7 linked regions of the Homo sapiens genome follow. The protein of the gene in region 6 purifies or fractionates together with the protein of the main gene of each other region. This does not show direct contact. Each region holds a gene or a part of one and is shown on either strand. Other genes may lie near its edges.

Region 1 (2,576 bases), on a different chromosome or scaffold from region 6:
AACTGCTTCCTTCTATGATGTTTACTAGATGGAGAAAAATACTCCATACCTATATTGCAATTTTATTTTTATCTAGAAAAAGAAAATATTAGGCTTCAGACCCAACTGTGCAAATTTCATTTGCTTTCCATCTCTTACTACTACCTCTGTGTCATAATTTAACACGTAACATACAACTCCTGTCTCTTAAGGCAGCTACCATATGGTGTTTATGTCAGACTGGATATATTTATCTAATTTTGTGAAATTATTTTTTAGTTCCCAACACAATTCTTGAAAGTAATACCACTGTTGTTACTCTTTCTCCTTACAATTTTTATGTTGTTGAGATGTATCAGTTATGTATTATAATCATGAAATTGTATTGGCCTCAAACCCAAATTTTCTTTGTAGTCTAGGATAGATTTTTCATGAAAGCTATATAGTTATAACTGTGATTGTACAGATTGTTTATTTGTTTTACAGCTAACATTAAGCATGATTCCAGGTTTTTAATTATGTTCCAGCAACACTAGTGTTTCTTTATAACTTAAAATCATAACCACTTTGATAATTTACCTTTGGATCTGACCAGTGATTCATTTTTTTCTTGAATATACTTTGTGTTTGCTTTCTCATCCCCGTTAAGTCTGAAACATTATTGACACCCCACATCACTTACTCTGTTTAAAGACTTTACGAGTAGTGAGTCACATGTTTAGGATGATCACTTTGGGAAAAAAAAAATTATAGAGTAAAGGGGAAATGTTCTTGAGAGCTTTATTAAAACCATTAATATATAAAATGAAAAAATAATAAACAGAAGACACGAAGTGTCTCTCAATAGTTTAGAAAGAAAGATTTGGAACTTTAAGTAAAAATGCTAGGTCAAGTAAAAATCCTGATGTAGATTAGATTATCTTAATCTTATGAGCATTTTTTTTTAATTTGGTGAAGCTGTTTTGAAACTGCCTGTCCATATCAATGCCAGACTATCTCTCTACCTCTCAAAGAAAATAATTTGCATTAAAATTCCTTTTTTTGTTATGTAATGAAAGTATAAAACAAGAATTTGTACGTTACTCAGTGTGTACTGCAGTCAGATATAGTTAAAATAATTTTTCTGATGCGTAATTTTAACCACCATTTCTGGAGTACCTAGTATGTGCAGGCCAAGGCTTTGCCTATATTATTCCCTTTAATCCTCAAAGTAGCCTTGCAAAGAAGTTATTTTCATTTTACAGAAGAGTCAAGGATTAGGGGGTTGAAGTGAGCTGCCTAGAGTCACATACCTAAAGTCCAGGTGGATCACTATGTCTTGCTTTTTCAAAAGCAGTTCTTTCTACTACAGTACAATAGTTTCATGTTTTACAGTCCATTAAAATCCAAGACTTATAAAATAAACTAAAAATACTCTTGAGGCAATTACTATTTCTATGATGGGCACTGGGACAAATATACTTGAACATAACAAAGAACTAAAAATACTGTGAAAAAAAGATTTGTCTTAACGATGACCTTGAAAGTTGCATTGGGTTTTTATTATTGGTCCAGGTTTAAAACATTTTATCTATTTAAAACATATGTTGTGTGTTTTAAGAAGTTATGTTATAAATAACAGCATTGTGGTTAAGAGCCCAGAGTCTGGGGCCAGGCTTCTTAGATGCAAATCCCAACTCTGTTATTTTACTAAATGTGTGACCTTGGGCAAGTTAATTAACCTGTTTTGGTGTCCTCCTCTGTGAAATGGAGTTAATCGTGGTATTTAACAGAATTCAAAATGTAGTGTGTTCTAAAGCGCTGTGCCTGGAGCATCATCACCACTAGGTGGTTAGGGAAGTAAAACACATTTGGCACACATCATTCAAGAATGGCCAGAAAATCCATGTCTTCCCACAATAGGGACCAATTTTTTGCCTTTCACCAGACAACCACTGAATGTTAAGAATCTACTGTGTGCTAATAACTGTGTCCTTGCTGTATGACAGAAGCTATTTGGAGCGCTCTCAAGTGCTTATTACAGCTAGTCAAGGAAACCGCATATATAAAATAATACTGGATACAAGACTATACAATTAAATACTGGTGTATCACTAACAACTGTTTAGACCCTGTTTTTGCGTTAAGCATTGGGTTAGTCTCTGTCCTCATGGAGTTTTCAGTTTTATAGGGAATACAGACCTTTTAACAAGTATGTAAAGTACAGTAAAAGACAAGTACAGATTAAAATGAAATCATAAAATAGGAACCTTAGCCTAGTCTTCTGTGGTTCAGGTTAATAGTGCTGTTAGTAGTCAGAAGGAAGTTTTTTAAAGAAATGAAAAAGCTCAGTGGTTAAGATAGAAATTAAAGTTAGTCTTGATGGCTACCTAGATTTTGGATGAGTTCAAAGGATATACGGAGGGATTTCAGGCAAGATAATGTGAGCAAGGCATATCTGTGAAATAGAAAACAGTGCATTTTGGTGTATTGTGTGAAACAAGGTTGGTTGTGAAGGATTGGGTCCCTTCATAAAATTCCTTGAAAGCCAAGGAGAGTAGTTTAGATTTGAGATGGCAGGGTCTGGAGTGATTTAAGAATAAATTATAAAACCAAGG
Region 2 (3,500 bases), about 14 Mb from region 6:
TTTTTGAGACAGAGTCTCACTCTGTCACTCAGACTGGAATGCAGTGGCACGATCTCAGCTCACTGCAACCTCTGCCTCCCAGGTTCAAGCGATTCTCCTGTCTCAGCCTCCCGAGAAGCTGAGATTACAGGCACCCACCACCATGCCCAGCTAATTTTTGTATGTTTAGTAGAGACAGTGTTTCACCATGTTGGTAAGGCTGGTCTCGAACTCCTGACCTCAGGTGATCCACCCACCTCAGCCTCCCAAAGTGCTGGGATTACAGGCGTGTGCCACCATGCCCGGCCACTTCCCTTTTTTTATATTGGCTGACTGACCCTTTCCCACTGGCTAGGAAAGGATCACCCATGGCTGCCATTCTGGGCAGCAGAGCCTGGGACTGTCTCTTCATCAGGGAACCTCTGGTGCCCAGCACAGGGCCTGACACACGTGGAGTCCAGTGTATAGATGTAAAAGGAATGAGTGAATTAACCTCAAGAGGGATACCCACTCCCACCTACTGATGAGACCATGAGCCCCTGAAGGACAGAACCACATCTCATTCGTGTTTGTGATTCCTGGCACCCAACACAGCACCTGACAAATGACAGCCTTTGATGGGTGTTGGTAGGTACATAAAATTTCAGAACACCAGTCCTAGATGAAATCTTGAAAGATCAATTTTATCTCCCTACTCCACCCCTCTGGGCTACATCTGAATTTTTCTGGCCAGAAAAAAATCAGTAAAGTTGAGGAAATAATTCCACAATGTCAGAAAATTCTTCCATGTTTACACCTTAAGTCCTTTATTATCCCTTTTATTGTTTCCTCATGCAGAACTTATTGAGCATAGCCTATTATACTGAGATACAAAATCAAACTTTTAGAATAAGCTGTCTGTGAATTAGAACACTGAGCAATCTCTACCTTCCCCTCCACCACCTCCACCCGCCAAGAAAAGCTCTGTTTGCCTGAAATTAGTAAGCGTTTATTGGTGTGAAGAGTTTTTGGTTTGGGATTTTTATTTTATCTTTTTTTAGCTGGAGAGAAGAAATTTTAACTTGAGCTAATAGTTTGTTAATTTGGTTTTAGGAGGGAAATGATGCCCCTGCTGTCCCTGATCTTCTCTGCCCTCTTCATCCTCTTCGGCACTGTCATCGTTCAGGCTTTCAGGTAAATGTCCTGTGGCTTCTCGGTGCACCACCATGGTTGGTGTTGACACTTTTTTTGTAAAACTCCTTTTTTCTTACTTTAGCGACTCTAATGATGAGCGAGAGTCAAGCCCTCCAGAAAAAGAGGAAGCCCAAGAGAAGACTGGGAAAACTGAGCCAAGCTTCACCAAAGAAAACAGCAGGTTTCTCTAACAAAACACCAGACTCACCTCCCCGGCACCTGCCCCCCAGATCCTGTCATCTGATAACGCAGCATTGGAACATAGAGTGTAGAGAAGAACTCTCATGCACCTCCTCCCATGTAAACTGTGGCTACAGGGAAAAGTCACTGTGATTTGTGTTTACTAAGACCCTGTAGGTGTTTAGATGCCTTAGATTTCATAATGAAGGCAGAAGGAAAGAAGCCTATCAGGCAAGTGTTAGGTGAGCCAGAAGCAGGACGTGGTTTATCCCTGTAAATGTCAATGAACGTAACCAGTCTTGTGCGCACACACACCCAGCAGCAAGAGGCCAGGGTCTCCGAGACAAAGAACATAGACTGAATGATAGTTGTCTTCTTCATTCTGTCCTAGAGCAACTTCTGCACCTGAAAAGCAGCATCAAGCAGGGCACAGTGGCTCACGCCTGTAATCCCAAGACTTTTAGGAGGCCTAGGTGGGAGGATTGCTTGAGCCCAGGGTTTGAGACTAGCTTAGGCAACATGGCAAGACCCTGTCTCTACAAAAAACTTATAAAATTAGCTGGATGTGGTGGCAGGCACCTGTAGTCCCAGCTACTTGGGAGGCTGAGGTAGGAGGATCACTTGAGCCCAGGAGGTCGAGGCTGCAGTGAGCCATGATCATGTCGCTGCACTCAAGCCTGGAAAACAGAGCAAGAACCTATCTCAAAAAGAAAAAGAAAAGCAGCACAGAAAGGCTGTTTGTAGGTCAGGGATTACCAAGTCAGGCCATCCCCATCCTACCAATGTGTTAGACTCAAGAATAGTGAATAACATACCTAGTCTGGTTAGAACATAGCATTTTCTTTCAGCTGTTTCTTTTCAAAGTAACGGCTTTCCCCCTATCCTGACAGCATCTTAACTCCTCAATATTTCTCCACAGCAAGATTCCTAAAAAAGGCTTTGTGGAGGTAACTGAACTCACAGATGTAACATACACCAGTAACTTGGTACGTCTGAGGCCAGGCCACATGAATGTGGTCCTCATCCTGTCGAATTCTACCAAGACCAGCCTACTACAGAAATTTGCTTTGGAGGTCTACACATTTACTGGGTAAGCATGTGTGTGTGTGCATGTATGTATGTGTGTGAGAGAGAGAGAGGCAGGCACACTGAAATTGCACGCTTTTCTCTTTGGTCTTGTGGGGCTTCATCCATACAGCAAGATGCTGGCTGTGACCTTTCCAATCCAGACATCTGAGCCATTGCGACAGGGACCTCTTTTCCCACTTCACTTCGTGTTTTGTTGGTTCTGAACAGAAAAGCTTGAACTCAGTGTTATTCCCTGAGCCCTTTCAGTTACTGTTCTCTAGCCCTTGTGTATTTTCCAGAAGAGCAATGTTAAGTTCCACCGAGCAAGCGATGGGGGAATGGGTGATTGAAGTGTCGCAGCTGCTGGAGAGGCACTGGCTCCCACAGAAGGCCTTCTTTTTCTCTGTGTTCAGGCCCCATCCAACACAAAGCGTTTTCCTATTATTTTAAGTCTCACTGGGGTATTTATTTTCTCAGCAATTAAATGTGTCAGGAAATGCCCTGAGTCCTCAATTCTCTTCTTCCTACAGGAGCAGCTGCCTACACTTCTCCTTCCTGAGTCTAGATAAACACAGAGAATGGCTAGAATACTTACTAGAATTTGCTCAAGATGCAGCTCCAATCCCAAACCAATATGATAAGCATTTCATGGAGCGTGACTACACTGGTTATGTACTGGCTCTGAATGGCCACAAGAAATACTTCTGCCTCTTCAAGCCCCAAAAGACAGTCGAAGAGGAGGAAGCCATAGGGTCGTGCAGTGATGTTGACTCTTCCCTCTACCTGGGTGAATCTCGAGGGAAACCTTCCTGTGGCCTTGGATCCAGGCCCATCAAAGGAAAGTTGAGCAAGCTCTCTTTATGGATGGAACGCCTGCTGGAGGGCTCCTTACAGAGGTTTTATATCCCATCATGGCCTGAACTAGACTGAGAGGATTTTCCAAAGAGATTTGAACTCTTCAGACTTTTTAACATGCCCCTGTGAACAGGTATTTTCAGGACTCAAACTACCACAATGAACAGAGTATAGATTTTAGATTGCTCTTCTAGAACCATGGCTAGAAGAATCTTTCCTTTGTCCTGTTCTAACCTAGGAATGAA
Region 3 (2,804 bases), on a different chromosome or scaffold from region 6:
ACAAGCAGCCGCTTGCAGTGGGAGAAGGAAAAGCAGACAAGAAGCTCAGGTAGGGAATGCCTGGAACTGTCGGGTGGGCAGCCCCTGGGGAAGGGACTCAAGCATAAAGGCTTGGGATAAAGAGGGAAAAGACCAGGTGAGGGCAGGAGGGGAGCTGCTGAAAGATGCAGGTGAACAGTAAAGCACCTTTCAGTAAAACTGCCCTTTCCCAGGCAGCTCTGGGGTGGGCGCTGTTGGTAGGAGGCCGTTCTCCCGCTTCCTTAGAATTGTGAGAGCAGTAAGAAGTTACTTCAGCAGTTCCTAAGATGCTCCTTCCCCATGTTCTACACTAGACACAGAGCTTAGAGCCCAAGCCTGAGCGCTGTCCTGCACCCGTGAGACGCTGAAGGCAGCCTCTGGTGGGGGGTGCATCCCCGGCCCCCTCCTCTAGGTGTTCTGAGCCAGCCTCCTCTGGAGGAGGAGGTAGACGCTCAGTGACCCCTAAGAACAGCTGAGAAACCTGAACTGTCCCCTTCCCTTTCCTTGGAATGACAGAATCTGGAGTGATTTCCTTGTTTCTTACTTAAAAACAAGCCCAGCACACGATGGCTCACACAAGCCTCTGGCTGGAGAAGCTGCCCTCCCGGAGGCTGCGCAGGCCCTTTGGACCTTGGTCAGCCCTCCACCCAGCCTCACCCTGGACCTGCCCCCGCCGTCTGAAGACAAACGAGACTGATGCCTACTGCTTAGCTCAGGCCCTCCTGTCCTGACAACCTGGGTCTGCTGCTGGGAGTGAAGCAAAGGAGGAAAAGGACAAACTCCCAGTGGCCTCACTTGGGGACCACACACGGGTCCACTCCCTCCATCACCAAGTGGTGTTCACGATGAGCTGTGTGGGAGGTGGAGACAGGTCCAGAGAAAGCAGCAGGCTCCGGAAGAGGAAGGAAGGAAAATGACAGGTTACAGAAGGCTTCAGGGAAAGAAATGTGTGAAAAACACAGCACCCCTGCAGGGCAGGGTATGGAGCCCCAGAAGCAGAGCCCACGGGGCCTGGGATGGGCCTGTGGTATGTCAGCTCACCCCATCTGGGCCAACCTGGGAGCCACCAGCAGCCATCTCCATGATTTGTCTCTGGTGCCCAGCACATCCACTGGCTTTAGAGGAGCCCAGGACAGGGACCCTGTGTGATTCTCATGCTAAAACTGTCATCAACTTCATGGGCTGCCTGTAAGCGCCCTGGGCTCATCAAGCCAGGAGCTGGAACCCAACTATGACCCCCCCCCTCCCCCAACCTGCCTGCTGCTCTGAGCACCCCATCGCTTCCCAGGCGGGGAGCCAGGCACCAGAATGCTCGCAATCGGTGCCCTCAAGAACCTCCTTTTCTTTTTGCAAATAACCTCAAGGGTGAACCAGCTGAGGAATCAGGAGGGGATGCATTCTTAAGAGTCACCTCTTAAGGTACTGCAGTGACGTATCAAACTAAACAGGACAGAGGCTAGAGATGGAAGGGAGCGGAGGGGCTGGCAAGAAACATATAAAAGTTCAGCTATACACATGGAGCTTGCGTTTTTGTTTTCTTTTCCTTTCCCCTTTGTAAAAACCTTGGCTACATTTTAAAACAAAAAGCCTCAAAGTAAAATGACCCTGCTGCCAAATCACTGTGCCTAGGGATGGGCGGCTGGGCCGGAAGCACTGCTGAGAAGGCGCCCTGGCTGCGCGGCAGGACAGGGAGGAGGCAGGGAGGGCAAATCTGCACTGCACAGGAGGCGTCACTCCACAGTCACGGTAGGAGCAGATGGGATGAAGGAGTCGTCTGCTTTTTTGTTTCGTATCAAAGCAAGCGGGTCAATGCCATATATCCACGGGTGCAAGCTGGTTGACAACGGAGCTTTCGGGAGTGGAGAGGAGGGAGGTCTCTCAGTCTGGGCCACGCATTTGGACGGTGGATCTGGTGAGGCTCCCGAGTGTCGGCTGTGTCGAGGCCGCATGGCGGCACCGTCCTCAGTAGGGAGAGGCGAGGTGGCAGCCAGGCACTGTCAGGCCTTACTCTCCTCCACTTTGACAGCCCGAGGCTTGATCGCTCCGGTTCGCTTCATCTGGGAGGCAGCCGAGGGGGCCTCCTGCAGCTTCACGGCTCCCAGGCTGGGTTTCTCATCCACTCGTTGTTTTGCCTTTGGACAGATGAATGGGAAAAACAAAGTGACCCTGACGCTGAAACGTGTTTGGATACATAGTTCCCACCACTCCCTTCCTGCTCCTGAGTTGCAGGGAAAGCTCCCCTAAGTTGTCAGTCCCTTGGTTGAAGGACCAGACTTAGAAACCCCCCTCCTAGTAAGGAAAGTGGCGCGAGTGCCGTCTCTGCTCCCTCCCCATAAGCCCTGAGTGCAGTGATTCGGAGAGGCAGGAAGACACCGGGTCCTCCACAAAGAATTCCGCGATGGCACATCCCAGGGCGGAAGCAGTTCTGGTCCCAAGGCCAACTGGAAGAACCTTTTCAAATCAGTGCACCTCCTGCCCCACAGGCAAAAAAGGCCCCTTCAAGTAGATCCAAGTGCCCCCTGCACGTCTCGGAGCCCCCGACTGTCTGCTGGGGCCCTAGGCAGACTTGGCCCCCACAGATCTCTGGCCGCGATTCAGCCAACCCCCCCACCATTCCCACTCTGTAACCTTTCCCTGGGGCCCCATTCCTAGTCAGGGCTCCCCTGGTCTGTGGCTCTACACGGGGAGTGGGGTGGGGAAGTCACAGAGCAGCCAGCGCATCTGCCCCCCACCAGGTCTGAACTCTGGAAGAAAGCTTTAGAAGCTCATTCCACACAACTTTCATG
Region 4 (3,500 bases), on a different chromosome or scaffold from region 6:
TTCAGTTTTCTCATCCACAGAAATCAGAAATAAGTACTTTTATCAAAGTTATTGAGAGGATTAAAATGATATAGTTAAAATGCAAAGATCAGTAGCTGACTCAAAGTAATTATATAAACGTTTGCTATTTTATTATTTTATAAATGACAGATGAAAGCTTGATAATCAAGTTTTTTTTTTTGGATGGAGTCTCACTCTGTTGCCAGGCTAGAGTGCAGTGGCATGATCTTGGCTCACTGCAAACTCTGACGCCCGGATTCAAGCGATTCTTCTGCCTCAGCCTCCCGAGTAGCTGGGATTACAGGCGCGTGCCACCAAGCCTGGCTAATTTTTGTATTTTTAGTAGAGATGGGGTTTCACCATGTTGGCCAGGCTGGTCTCGAACTCCTGACCTCAGGTGATCCACCCGCCTTGGGCTCCCAAAGTGCTGGGATTGCAGGTGTGGGCCACTGTGCCTGGCCTTCATAATCAATTTTTAAAAGCAGGACATGAAAAGGAGTGAAAGTTAAGAAACCTTAGCTGTAGTGTTTGGAATTAACACTTGGGAAGTCATGATTGACAAATAGAGAAATATAAATATGTATATATAACTGATATAAAACAAATTAGATTTTGACATTAGAAACACATATACACATACTGTAATATGTACTTTCTTCATTCTCTTTAACCTATATTCTGGTTTTAAGTTTCCTGGAGCCCGTGGAGTAATGGGACAGGAAGGCTCAGAGGGTCTCTTTACTGATAGTTAAGATACAAAAAAAACTAGGCCAGGCGCAGTGGCTCACGCCTGTGATCCCAGCACTTTGGGAGGCCAAGGCGGGCGGATTATGAGGTCGGGAGTTTGAGAGCAGCCTGGCCAACATGGTGAAACCCCATCTCTACTAAAAATAGAAAAATTAGCCGGGCATGGTGGCAGGCACCTGTAATCCCAGCTACTAGGTAGGCTGAGGCAGGAGAATCACTTGAACCCAGGAGGCGGAGGTTGCAGTGAGCCGAGATCGCACCACTGCACTCCAGACTGGGTGACAGAGCAAGACTCTGTCTTGGAAGGCGGGGGAAGATACAAAAAAAAAAAAAAAAAATCGGGGGAATCTTCAAATTTGTTAAGTGGTAGACACTTCCATATTTTATTAATACAGAACTCTTGTTATATGTGGGATTACATGGCTTTTTTCACTTCTATATTAGAGATGAGATGGGGAAAGTATGTCTTGAACAGTTACTTCAGCATAAATACTTTCGTACCTTCATTTTTTCCGTTTGGAAGGTAAGAGGGTTGGATATTTACAGAATTGCTCATTGAGGACCAGTCTTTGATATTTACTTGCTCTAATGTTAGTTGGCCAATCAGAATTATTTGCATTTAACTAAAACCATCAGCATAAAGCAAGCTTACATAACCTACATTTATTTCATAGCTTAGTGATTACATTACACAGTCAGTCAGAATCCTGATTCTGCTATTTACTAGCTAAGTGGCCACAAATAAGTTATTTAAATCCTCTAAGCCTGCTTCTGTAGTTGTAAAATGAGAGTTATAGCAGCACCTACCACCTAAGATTTTGAGGTTTGAATGAGAAAATGCATGTAAAGCTTTGGGCATTGTGCATGATGTAAACACTCAAATGTTACTGAAGTCAATAAATGTTAACTATTTTTTAGCACACTTCAGTGGGCTTATATCACCAGTCAAAATGATACACAGTATTTTATTTAATGGCTTTATGTAAATTATATTTTACTAGCTATTAATAAATTAACTCTTGGAACTTTTGCCATGGTTAATTTGAAAAATTGAAAATAAATGGAAAATCATAAAAGTTCATCTATTTTGGATTACACATAATAACCACTATAGTGTTCAAAGTTAAGATACTAATCATGGCTGGGCACGGTGGTTCATGCCTGTAATCCCAGCACTTTGGGAGGCCGAGGTGGGCGTATCACTTGAGATCAGGAGTTCAAGACCAGCCTGGCTAACATGGTGAAACTGCATCTCTACTAAAAATACAAAAATTAGCTGGGCATGGTGGCGGGCACCTGTAATCCAAGCTAGTTAGGAGGCTGAGGCAGAAGAATTGCTTAAACCCACGAGACGGAAGTTGCAGTGAGCTGAGATCACACTACTGCACTCCAACTTGGGCAACAGAGTGAGACTCTGTCTCAAAAAAAAAAAAGATATTAATCACATACTAATGTTCTCTTTTAAATATTTCCACATTAACAGAAGAACTGAGCTTAGATAGACATAGTCCTACCTCTAAATCTTCATCTTCATCAATGTTTTGTATATTCTGGTAGGCAGCAGTGTAGACCTCTAAAGCTTTGCCGTGAAATAACATTTCGATTGTGATAAATTCAGAAAATATAGTCTAAAAAAAACCAAAGAATTGAATTTAAACAATGATTTAAATTTCTTTATGAATATAGTAACTTTATTCCTCACTATAGTCTTGGTATTTTATAAAATACAGAAGTATCTGTTTTTCTATAGGGTAAATAAAGTACAAAAGATAACTGAAAAACAGTTGTGAAGACCTTTTGCTGCCAAACCTTCAAATAATACAAAGTATTTCCTTTATCACCATCCACTTCCCTCTTATTTTTTATTTTAGTTAGTTCTCTTTATACCTAGTAATTGACATTTATAATAACATAAGATCTGACTAAAATGTATGCTACTATATAATTTTAATACCATATGCTTATTAAGTATTAGAGCAGTTCAGTTATGAAGCTGGTGTTTTAGCAATTCCAACTGATGTTTAAACAGGAGAACGTTTTTTAAACAGGAATTATGTTCCACACTGTATGCTACTTGTATTCTCTAAACATAAAGGAGTTACTTGGTAGTAATGACACTCCTGCCACTGATGATAACACCATATATTTGCATAGAGCGTTCTAGTTTACAAATATTGACTTGCCCAGTGTTGCTCACAGGTCAGACTCTTTAGACACAGATCTGATTCTAAGGCTACAAGGTTATAGCTCATTTAAGGTTTTTTTGCTATTGCCCACTGAACTGTGCTGTTCTTGCCGGAATCAATCATTTCCTTCACAGATAAACCGTGCAGGTAACCTCTATAAGCATGATGGAAACCTATGACAAGGAAGATCATGAACAAAGAGTATGAGTGAAGATGTGCATGTTGATCTAAGCAGGGGGTGAGGTAATCAGTAGGTGTGGAAAAGATGGAAACCAGGCAAGTTTTTAATAAATATGATCTTATCATTTTGTTAATTATAACAAAATAAGCAATGTAGAGAGAACTGGGCTGAATAAGAACAAGGCAGAAAATACTCAAGCATGGATTATATTAGTAGGCAGTAGTCAAATACACATTTTCCTTCATCCCTGCTCTCCTAAGATAACCCAGAAAGGAGTGGTCATATACTTTGGAGGATAGCCATATAGATACTTATCAGTGGCCTGTGATTCTTTCCTCCAGCCCCATTCTTCCTAGATGATTGGAAAAACACTTAAGGGAGCATTA
Region 5 (3,166 bases), on a different chromosome or scaffold from region 6:
CAACTGTACCTTCATTAGCATAAGGCTGATCTACCAAGGTAGAAGCTGGAGCATACACCCTCTCTGTCACAATAAGGCTCTGTGGCTGGCTAGGACCCAGGATCACAGTGGTTGGTGGCATAGTGGACCCTGTGACATAGGAAGTTTCTGTTGCTATCACATTTCTAGAAGCCATTGGGTCAGGAAGAGGTGTAGCTACCTTTTGCGCCTGCCTAGAAGACACAGATCTTTCAGTGACTATTTCCTGAGTTACTTTCTCTGCATTGGCTTCTTGCAAAGATTTTGGAACTGGGAAGCTACTGCCAGAGGAGTAGGTATTCTCTGAATTAACCATAGTTTGCTCACAGAGTGAATGTGAAGCTGTGTTCATACTTGTTTCTGTGGCAGGTTTTTGTCTCTGCTCAATTTCCTTATTTATATCTATTTTTTGACCCAGGCAAACTTCAGCTAGTGTCTTGAATTTAAGTCCCAAATCATCTAAGAAGCGGTCATCTAGCTCTCCTTCAATAAAACTGCAACAACCAATAGAAGCATTCAGCGATTCAGTTTCTTCCTGAGAATAAACCAGAAGGCAATCTTTGGCTGTGTGATTTTCATCTTCCTCAGTGTAAGAGGCCGCTTTCTAAAATGAAAACAAAACAAAACAAACACAAAACAGACAAATAATTAGCAATATAAATTCATTTTAAAACAAGACTCTATATTCCTGTTCAAAATGCAGTAATGTGAATTTAATTACAAGGAACCATCAGGGAAACACAAATTGAGAGAGATCCTACGACACAACTGGACTGTATTCTTAAAAAAAATTAATATCAGGGAAAAAATAGAAAGGCAGAGGGGACTGTTTCAGATTAAAGGAGACTAAAGTGTCAGGACAACTAAATGGAATGCAGGATCCTGAGAAAAACAAAATTGCTGTAAAAGATAGTGTGATAGTTGGCTAAACTGAAATATGGACTATGTCAATATTAAAGTTCTACATTTGTTAACTGTACTATAGTAATGTAAGAGAATGTGTGTGAATGTGTGTCAGTGAGAGAGAGACAGAGAAAATGGAAAAGCAAATAGCAAATGTGGCAAAATGTTTATTGGGTTCAAAATTTCTATTATTCTTGCAAATTTTCTGATAACTTTGAAATTACTTCCAAATCAAAAGTTAGTACACACATACATAACCAAGAATGACTGGAGCAGGATTAGAGTGGAGAGAGGGAAAACTTACCAAAAGAAAACAAACAGGACGCTAGAATTGAGCTTAGCAGTGAGACAGGAAAGGCCAAGAAATGGTTTTGCTTGACACCACCCACATCCCTGTTAAGCTAATACTTGAAGGTGGGTGAAGGATGGTATGAAAGATGGGAGGTTAAAAAGGAGCAGAAAGTGGGAAAGCACGCTAATAATTTGCAAATTTAGAAGAGGGGGACAGAAGTAACTTGCTTTCCTCAATGGAAGCCCCTCCCCTTACTCCTCTCTAGGGCCCTTCAGATGCCTTATATTCCAACTCTGTCCATTCTCATGGGAGCACAGGGCCTTGTTCTCAAGAAAACCACCCAGTCCTACTTTTTAAAAAATTATTCTTACTATGTCTGTAAGATCTGTAGTAAAGTTCTTTATTTTATTTCTAACATCCATAGTTTGTGCTTAATCTCTTAATATCCTAATTAGTCTGGTAAAATGTTTATCAATTTTATTGACCTCTTTAAATAATAAGCTTGTGGCTTCAATTTTTTTTCTTATTACTTTTTGCTAAATATTTCATTGATTTCTGCTCTAAAATTCATCATTATCTTATTTCTGCTTGTTTTGGGTTTAATTTGCTCTTCTAACTTCTGAGGGTGGAAGCTTAGGTCACTGATTTGAGAACCATCTTCTAATATAGCCATTTTTGCTACAATTTCCCTTCAAGCATCACTTTAGTAGTACCCCACAAATTTTCATGAAGTATAATTTAATTTGCAGTCATGTGTATTTATAAATATTTGAGTATATTTTATATATCTCTTTGTTACTGATCTCTGGTTTTAATTTTTTTTTCATCAAAGTACATTGTATGACTGCAGTTCTTTAAAAGTTATTTACATTTATTTAATGTTCTAGAATACAGTCTATATGAAAAAGCATGTGTATTCTGCTTCTGTTGCATAGAGTGTTCTGTCAGTATCAACTAGATCCATTTGGTTCACAGTACTAAGTTTTCTATATGCTTACTGATTCTGTCACTTGTTCTTTCATTTACTGATAGATCAGGTTGAACTCTCCAACTATCATTATGAATTTGTCTGTTTCTCTTTCAGTTGTTTTTGCTTTAAGTTTTAAAAATTTCTGTTATTAGGTTCTGACATATTTAGGAGTTTCAGGCCTCCTGATGAACTGACTCATTTTTCATTATGAACTATCCCTCATTATTCCTGGTAATATTCCTTGTTCTGAAGTATACTTTATCTCTATGTTATACTTTTTTTTTTTTTTTTTTTTAGACAGAGTTTCACTCTGTTGCCCAGGCTGGAGTGCAGTGGTATGATCACAGCTCACTGCATCCTTGGCTTTCCAGGCTCAAGTGATCCCCCTACCTCAGCCTTCTGAGTAGCTGGGACTACAGGTGTGTGCCAGCATGCCCAGCTAATTTTTTGTATTTTTGGAGAGATAGGGTTTTAACATATTGCCCAAGCTGGTCTTGAACTTCTGGGCTCAAGTGATCTGCCTGCCTTGACCTCCCAGAGTGCTGGGATCACAGGCATGAGCCATTGTGCCTGACCTCTACATTATACTTTTATTTTCAGTTCTGCTTCTAATTCCTCAATTCTAGCATGAGCTTCCTTATTGCATCTGATCATCTTCCTGGAACTTTTCTCATCATTTTTTGGTGGACCCTCATAATAGCAAAGCCAAGTACTCTCATACAGAAGGTAAAATTTAAATGGACTTAATAGATTGTGTTTTTTAGGTTATATATCCTCTGCCTCTCCTACGGAGCTCATCCCTACCAAGCCTGCTCCTGCAGAGGGATGCAACTTTCCGACCCACTGACATCTGTCTTGGTCATATGACTTGCTTTGGTCAATGAAATGTGGTGTAAAAAGGTGGAGGCTTTGAGAGCCATTGCCTGGTTCTGCCTTGTTCTTTTCTTTGGGTCACAAGGACGGCAGCTTCCCAGGTACAATCT
Region 6 (3,500 bases):
ATGGTGAAACCCCCATCTCTACCAAAAATACAAAAAATTAGCCGGCGTAGTGGTAGGTGCCTATAATCCCAGTTACTCGACAGGCTGAGGTGGGAGAATCGCTGGAACCAGGAAGGCAGAGGTTGCAGTGAGTTGAGATTGCACCACTGCTCTCCAGCCTGGGCAACAGAACAAGACTCCATCTCAAAAAAAAAAAAAAAAAAAAAAAAAAAAAAAAAGAATGACAACTGTGAAGCCAGATGGTCAGGTTAGAAAGCCAGGCTTTCTGTGACTTCTTCTGTAAAATGGGAATAGAAATAAAATGGGAATAGAAATAGTAACCTACCACATAGGGTTGTCATGGGTATTAAATGCAGTAATATATCAAAACCATTCAGAATGGTGCTTGAATGTGCTAAGGGCTAAATATTAGTTTGACATATGTAGAACACTGCATTCAACAGCAACAGAATACATGTTCTTTTCAAATACACTGGAACATTTACCAAAATTTAACAATATGTTGGGCCATAAAGTAAAGATGAAATTTCACAAAATAAAATTTAGAGTATATACTCTGACTACAGTGGAATTAACCTAGAAATCAATAATAAAAAGACAATTAGAAAAGTCCCAATTGCTGGCCAGGTGCAGTGGCTCATGCCTATAATCTCCGCACTTTGCAGGGCCAAGGTGGGCAGATCACCTGAGGTCAGGAGTTCGAGACCAGCCTGGCCAACATGATGAAACCCTGTCTCTACTAAAAATACAAAAATTAGCCAGGCGTGGTGGCGGGCACCTGAAATCCCAGCTACTCAGGAGGCTGAGGCATGAGAATCACTTGAACCCAGAAGGCGGAGTTTGCAGTGAGCCGAGATTGTGCCACTGCACTCCAGCCTGGGTGACAGAGTGAAACTGTGTCTCAAAAACAAACAAAAAAGAAAAGTCCCAATTGCTTAGAAATTAAGCAACATAATTCTAAGTAACTCTTAGGTCAAAGCAGAAATTATAACAGAAATAACAGTTCAATTGTATAGACAACAAATTGAACTGAATGATAATGAAGATAGGAAATATCAAAACTTGTGGGACACAGCTAAAGCAGGACTTAGAGGAAAATGTGTAGCTTTAAACACGTATATTAGAAATGAAGAAGGGCTCAGTATTAATGATCTAAGAAACTTCTATCTCAAAAGGCAAACAGAACAGCAAATCAACTCCAAAGAAAGTATAACAAAGGAAATAAAAAATAGAAAATAAAGAAAATCAAGTAAGCCAACAGTTGGTTCTTTGGAAAGATTAATTTATACAGTCTTCACAAGGGTAAACAAGAAAAAAGAAAACAGAAATTACCAATATCAGAAATGAAAAAGATGATATCACTATAGAGCCTATGGACATTAAATAAATATAATAAAAGAATATTGGCAAATGAAGTGGCTCATGCCTGTAATCCCAGCACTTTTGGAGGCCAAGGTGGGTGGATCACTTGAGCCCAGGAGTTCGAGACCAGCCTGGGCAACATGGCAAAACCCCGTCTCTACAAAAAATACAAAAAAATTAGCCAGGCATGGCAGTGCACGTCTATAGTCCCAGCTACTTGGGAGGCTGAGGTAGAGTGATCATTTGAGCCTGGGAGGTCGAGGCTGCAGTGAGCCATAATCATGACACTGCACTCCCACCTGGACAAAAGTGTGAGTCCCTGCCTCAAAAATAAATAAACTAGCTTGGCGTGGTGGTGCATGCCTGTAGTCCCAGCTCAGGAGGCTGAGGTGGGAGGATCGCTTGAGCCTGGGAGGAGGAGGCTGCAGCAAACTGAGATGGTGCCACTGTACTCCAGCCTGGGCAACAGAGCAAGACTCTGTCTCTAAATAAATAAAAAAAATTATAAACAACATTATCTCAAGAAATTTGACAATTTAGGTGTAATGAACAAATTCCTTAAAAAATACAGTCCATCTAAACTGATACAAGAATAAAAAAATCTGAATATCCCAATATCTATTTTAAAAACTAAAATTTACTAAAAACCTTGCCACAAAGAAAACTCTATGCCCAAATGGCTTCACTGCTGAATTCTTTCAAACACTTAAGGAAAGAAATTAGACCAATCTAACCCAAAGTCTTCCAGAGAAAAAATAGGAGCTATCACTACTTTGGTGTTATACAGTTGGTTTAATCCTAAGCAAAAAAAAGAAAAAAATACCCTCAGTAAATTTCAGTCTCAGACATGGCGTATCTGTGGGAGGTACACAGGGCCCCGGGAATTGGGACTGAGACTCTTACCATCCTCATCCGTCTGGAAAGTGACCTCCTTGCCCTCTTTGCGCCCCTCAGGGTTAGTGAGGACAAGCCTCACGTGAACGTTCCGATAGGGCAGCAGGTTCTTGATGGTGTAGCGGCTGACACCTTGCTCTGTCTTCACACACTCTCGGATGGTCTGGTTGTGGCTGCTGCCCAGGGTGTAGTGATAGCACAGCGACACAGTATAGGTGTGGCAACGCGTCACGTTGTAGCCCAGTGGTTCCCACTGCAGGGTCAGCTGACGGGCCTGGATCTCAGCAAAAGCCAGGCCTTTGGGGGCCCTCATGGGCTCTGGAGAATGCAGGAAGCAGAGAGAAGAAGTTAGAAGAAATGGGAAGAGAAGAGGAAGAAGAACAGGGAGAGAAAGCATCAGTCAGCTGCCTGAAATCATCCCTCCATTGCCCCCAAGAGCTCAGGGGACCCCTAGAACATCAAACAGGGAGTAAAAGTATGTGCTTTGGAGTCAGGCGGACTACATTTGAATCCTGGCTCTGCCACTTGCAGCTGGCAACTGCTGGCTGAATCACTTCACCCCTCTGATCCTTAGATTCCTCAACTGCAAAATGAAAAGATAATAGGCCCTGCCTCATAGGATCATTGTAAGGTTTAAGGAAATACACACAAAGGATGCATGACAATGGCTAATATACAATAAGCCCTCAAAAATATTAGCTTTTTTTTTTTTTTTTTTGACAGAGGCTCACTCTGTCACCCAGGAGGGAGTGCAATGGCATGATCTAGGCTCACTGCAACCTCTGCCTCCCAGGTTCAAGCAATCCTTCCACCTCAGACTCCCAAGTAGCTGGGATTACAGGCGTACACCACCACGCCTGGCTAATTTTTGTATTTTTGGTAGAGATAGCGTTTCACATGTTGGCCAGGCTGGTCTTGAACTCCTGACCTCAAGTGATCCACCCACCTCAGCCTCCCAAAGTGCTTGGGTTACAGGTGTGAGCCACCGCACCCGGCCAATAATTTATTTTTAATAGCACAGTTCACCTCCTAATTCAAGATCACCCTGGACTACAACAGGCCAGTCTGAATCAAACTGTTGATATATTTTTCTTAAGGTATTAATTCCAAACTTGTTCTGAAACAATGTATAGTAATACATATAATATAATAACATACAGAAATCAGGGTAATGAGGGAAATGAGAGCCAAATAGTTAAATAAAGCCAGAGAATGACAGGGAAACAGAAACAGAAATACATGAC
Region 7 (3,500 bases), on a different chromosome or scaffold from region 6:
TTATCTGCCACGTGCCAGAACATTGAATTTTTCTTTTTCTGTAAATGTGGCCTTCCAGAACCACCTGCAGCTCCTTTTATGACTAATCACATACATATTTTTTAATGCCGTTGAACATTTCTGAAGTCATGGAATCACTGGGTCACATAGTAGTTATATATTTCACTTTAGAAGAAACTACCAAACTTAGGACAGCAGCATAGGAGAGGCGCAGTTCCTCCATATCCTGAACCCTTGGTATTGACATTTGTCAAAACCCAGCCATTCTGATGGGTGTGTAGCTGTATTTTATTGTGATTGGAATTTGTATTTCCTGGATTACTAATGATGACGGGTGTTTCTCAGGAGCATACTGGTCACTCAGATGGCTCTTTTTCAAGAGTCTGTTCAAATCTTTTACTTCATTTTTTAAGGTGGGTTGTCTCTTGACAATATGGATATCCTTTTCCCGTCCAAGGCTGTCCCGATAAACCTGGAGCTACATCCTATGTTGTCTCTCACACGAGGCACCGTTCCAGCACTTCTCTCTGTTGCATTATCAGGTTTACCTCTCACATGGGATTATCAGCACACATGCTGCTGACTTTTCCAGGTTGACAAGAGGCTCTCCCACCGCCCGCCGCTGCCCTTTGCGTCCCAGCGGCTTGTTATGTGTAGCCCCGCTCCTCCTGCACTCGTACACCCCTCGAGAGACACCAGTGTGGTGCTGAGGGGAAAGTTGTGAAAAGGGCAAAGACAAAACAAGGTCTGGCTGGGTGTCCTGCCCAGCCTGCCCGCTGGGTCCTCACCCCCTGTCTCTCCTGGGCTTTGCGGCTGTTGAGACAGAAGGCAGCCTGCGGTAAGCGGATAAGCCGTGTAGACACACCCCACCCAGAACCCTGCACGTTATTCCCCTCCTGGCAGGGCAGAAGGCTTTTGTCACATAGAGAAGTTAGTTTCAGTGAGGCATTGAAACAGCCTCCTGGGTCCCTCATTAAAGGTGATGTGTGGTCAGATGGATTCTGTTTTTTTTTTTTTTTAAGAAAAAGGAAAAACAGCTGTAAAATACCTTGTGAAAGCAACAGGAGAAATCTAAAAATAAGTTCGGTGTTAGACAAAGTTTTTGATAGAAAAAAGGATTGGGGTGGGGGGAAAGAGGGAGGAGTGGACTAGAGACAGCCAAGAAGAAACTTTCGGGAGTGGCAGATGTGCTCTGTGTCTTGATTGGTGCGGCCTGCCCGACTGCTTGTGCTGCCCTCTCTAAACGGATAGTTAACCTGCAGTTCTTCTCATAGTAAGAAGGGAAGCCTCAGTCAAAATGAGAGTTGACTTAGGACCAGAAATATATCATTGTTCTATTTGGGGGATATTGCAGGCGTGGAAAGTCTCAAAAGCATCTTTAAGGAGATGAGATGCACTGTTAAAGAGATTCGTATCTGAGTTTAATTAAATGCAGCTTCTTGGTACAATTCATGGATTATAATACTTCTTACAGTGTTTTGTAATCTTTAATTTTTCGTGTTCATTTCTCCACTGTCCATTTTTCTTGTCTGTGAACTTAGTGCCAGCATACCGTTTGGCACATAACGAGAATTCTTTTAAAAACTGTCTGAATGACTGAATGTTAGTTGGATGATTTCCCTGTCTATCTGTAAGATGTCCCTATTTTCAGAGATAATCTTGTACTGGAATAGTTTCTTAACCATTGTCACTGAGAGTAACTTGGGGAAACTGGTGACATTTTGCCATCCTGTAAGTGTGTGAATACTTTTTTCATTTTTACAGGTTGCTGCAAAACTGTAATGATGACAGTTTGAATGTTGCACTTCCAATGAGAATGCTTGAAGTATTTTCGTCTGAGAATACTTACTTGCCTGTTTTACAAGATGCTAGCTATGTGGTGTCAGTGATTGAACAAATTTTGCACTACATGATTCACAATGGTAAGTAGTAGGCAGGATCAGAACTGTGGCTCAGCATCCTGATGGGGAGTGAGCAGAGGCCAGCCTGCTGCTGTGAGCCTGTGCCCTCAGTCTCAATGTCAGAGCGGTACTGGTGTCCCAGACGCCTTGTGCTCCATCCACAGGTGCCCACCAGAGTCCCAGATTCCAAAATCTGTCCTTGGCTCCACCCACTCTGAAAATTCAGAAACATGCTACTCTCTTTGCCTTTTTCTTTTGCTTGGAAGTGAACCAAAATTGACATATGCTTTCATCAGTTGTCCCGTCATCCAAGATTGGTGTCTGCAGTGCAGCTGCCGGTCCTTCACCTGACCAGGAAGGGCTCTTACCACCTCCTGGTCATTCTGAGTGAATGGGAAAGGTAATGCCACCAATGTATGAGTTGAACATCACTCCAAGAGCCTTATGAAAAAGTAAATTTTGTTAAATGATTTTTCTTCCAAGAGTGAGGTCCTTTCACATTAGTTCAGTAGAAGAGAATAGGATATTTAGTTTGAATTTTCTAACTCAGTGCTAAAGTTTTAATACATTGATAATGCTCCTAAAATGACTGCATCGTAGAAGCTATACTGAACTGCATCTGAAACCCTTGAGGACACATTAGTGACACTTTCTGGAGAAAAAGGATGAAATAAACATGATTTTTAAAAATTTTATGAAGTGAGCAGTATAAATCCTAACACAAAAGAACCTTTGGTCTCGACATCCTCATAGGTAGAAACCCAAGCACTTCAGGACTCCTGGGCTCGAGAAGTATTTGTCAGCATTAAAAATGTGCGTGAGACTAGTTGTGAAGGGAGGTCTGGAGAGCCGTGGCTGCAGACAGAATTATAAGCAGCTGTGCTTTCCTTCACCTGAAGTCATAGTCTGGGTTACATCTAACGGACTTGAAGTCTGGACCACTTGGTCCTCTTGGTCCTCTGTCAAAACTACAGAAATTAAACGCATACTCATTTCAGCCTTGCTGCTTGGCGTGTTACTATTTTTTAGACTCCTTAGTTTGTTGAAAACTTAGGGAAACAGTATTCCGAGTTAATTAAAAGTAAACTGAAAGTTGTGGAATTTGATCTTTTTAAAAACTAATAATTAAAAGTGGTTCATTGTGTTAGTTGACATATATACTGTTTTAAGACTAAGCGTTTGAGAATTTGTATTTGTTTTCTAAAATTGTAAGGAAGATATTTAAGAAATATGCATTATTTGAAATGTGTCCCAATATACGAAATGCTTAAAAATCTTACACAGAAACTGCCGCTTCTAGCATCTTCTGTGGTACAGCAGTTGTTTACTTTCTAACAGTCGATAAAATTTTAGCCTTTTAAATTATAGTATTACCATTATTTGTATTGTTATTGCACATTCTGTGCCATGAAGCTTTTTAACATTTGCAACAGAACCTTTGTCATGTTGTCAGTCTATTCAGTAAGTACATTGTTAGTTATGTTAGTCACTTTTTTAAAAAAGTCTCTGTGTATTTTTTAAAATTCTTGATGTATTTTTATCTTTTTAGTTTCATAGCAAAAGAGCTTTCAAGCTTTCATATGAGTTTCACTAGTTATC

The links.
Region 1: the proteins of PTPRU (region 6) and MON2 purify together in Homo sapiens (affinity purification with mass spectrometry, with the first as the bait; one large-scale study listed by BioGRID). This does not show direct contact.
Region 2: the proteins of PTPRU (region 6) and DNAJC16 purify together in Homo sapiens (affinity purification with mass spectrometry, with the first as the bait; one large-scale study listed by BioGRID). This does not show direct contact.
Region 3: the proteins of PTPRU (region 6) and PRRC2B purify together in Homo sapiens (affinity purification with mass spectrometry, with the first as the bait; one large-scale study listed by BioGRID). This does not show direct contact.
Region 4: the proteins of PTPRU (region 6) and CIBAR1 purify together in Homo sapiens (affinity purification with mass spectrometry, with the first as the bait; one large-scale study listed by BioGRID). This does not show direct contact.
Region 5: the proteins of PTPRU (region 6) and DSG2 purify together in Homo sapiens (affinity purification with mass spectrometry, with the first as the bait; one large-scale study listed by BioGRID). This does not show direct contact.
Region 7: the proteins of PTPRU (region 6) and UBE3C purify together in Homo sapiens (affinity purification with mass spectrometry, with the first as the bait; one large-scale study listed by BioGRID). This does not show direct contact.

The regions. Positions count from the first base shown.
Region 1 is NC_000012.12:62,598,401-62,600,976, forward strand, and holds the end of MON2 (protein MON2 homolog), read left to right. Parts: 3' UTR 1-2,076; downstream 2,077-2,576. UniProt on the Homo sapiens protein: Plays a role in regulating membrane trafficking of cargo proteins. Together with ATP9A and DOP1B, regulates SNX3 retromer-mediated endosomal sorting of WLS away from lysosomal degradation.
Region 2 is NC_000001.11:15,564,848-15,568,347, forward strand, and holds part of DNAJC16 (dnaJ homolog subfamily C member 16 isoform 1 precursor), read left to right. Parts: intron 1-1,071; coding exon 1,072-1,152; intron 1,153-1,234; coding exon 1,235-1,333; exon of another isoform or gene 1,334-1,563; intron 1,564-2,251; coding exon 2,252-2,422; intron 2,423-2,930; coding exon 2,931-3,330; 3' UTR 3,331-3,500. UniProt on the Homo sapiens protein: Plays an important role in regulating the size of autophagosomes during the formation process.
Region 3 is NC_000009.12:131,495,086-131,497,889, reverse strand, and holds part of PRRC2B (protein PRRC2B), read right to left. Parts: intron 2,151-2,804; coding exon 2,016-2,150; 3' UTR 1-2,015.
Region 4 is NC_000008.11:93,717,550-93,721,049, reverse strand, and holds part of CIBAR1 (CBY1-interacting BAR domain-containing protein 1), read right to left. Parts: intron 2,376-3,500; coding exon 2,262-2,375; intron 1-2,261. UniProt on the Homo sapiens protein: Plays a critical role in regulating mitochondrial ultrastructure and function by maintaining the integrity of mitochondrial morphology, particularly the organization of cristae.
Region 5 is NC_000018.10:31,543,177-31,546,342, reverse strand, and holds part of DSG2 (desmoglein-2 preproprotein), read right to left. Parts: exon of another isoform or gene 2,948-3,166; intron 623-2,947; coding exon 1-622.
Region 6 is NC_000001.11:29,274,522-29,278,021, reverse strand, and holds part of PTPRU (receptor-type tyrosine-protein phosphatase U isoform 1 precursor), read right to left. Parts: intron 2,575-3,500; coding exon 2,266-2,574; intron 1-2,265.
Region 7 is NC_000007.14:157,176,926-157,180,425, forward strand, and holds part of UBE3C (ubiquitin-protein ligase E3C), read left to right. Parts: intron 1-1,764; coding exon 1,765-1,922; intron 1,923-3,500. UniProt on the Homo sapiens protein: E3 ubiquitin-protein ligase that specifically catalyzes 'Lys-29'- and 'Lys-48'-linked polyubiquitin chains.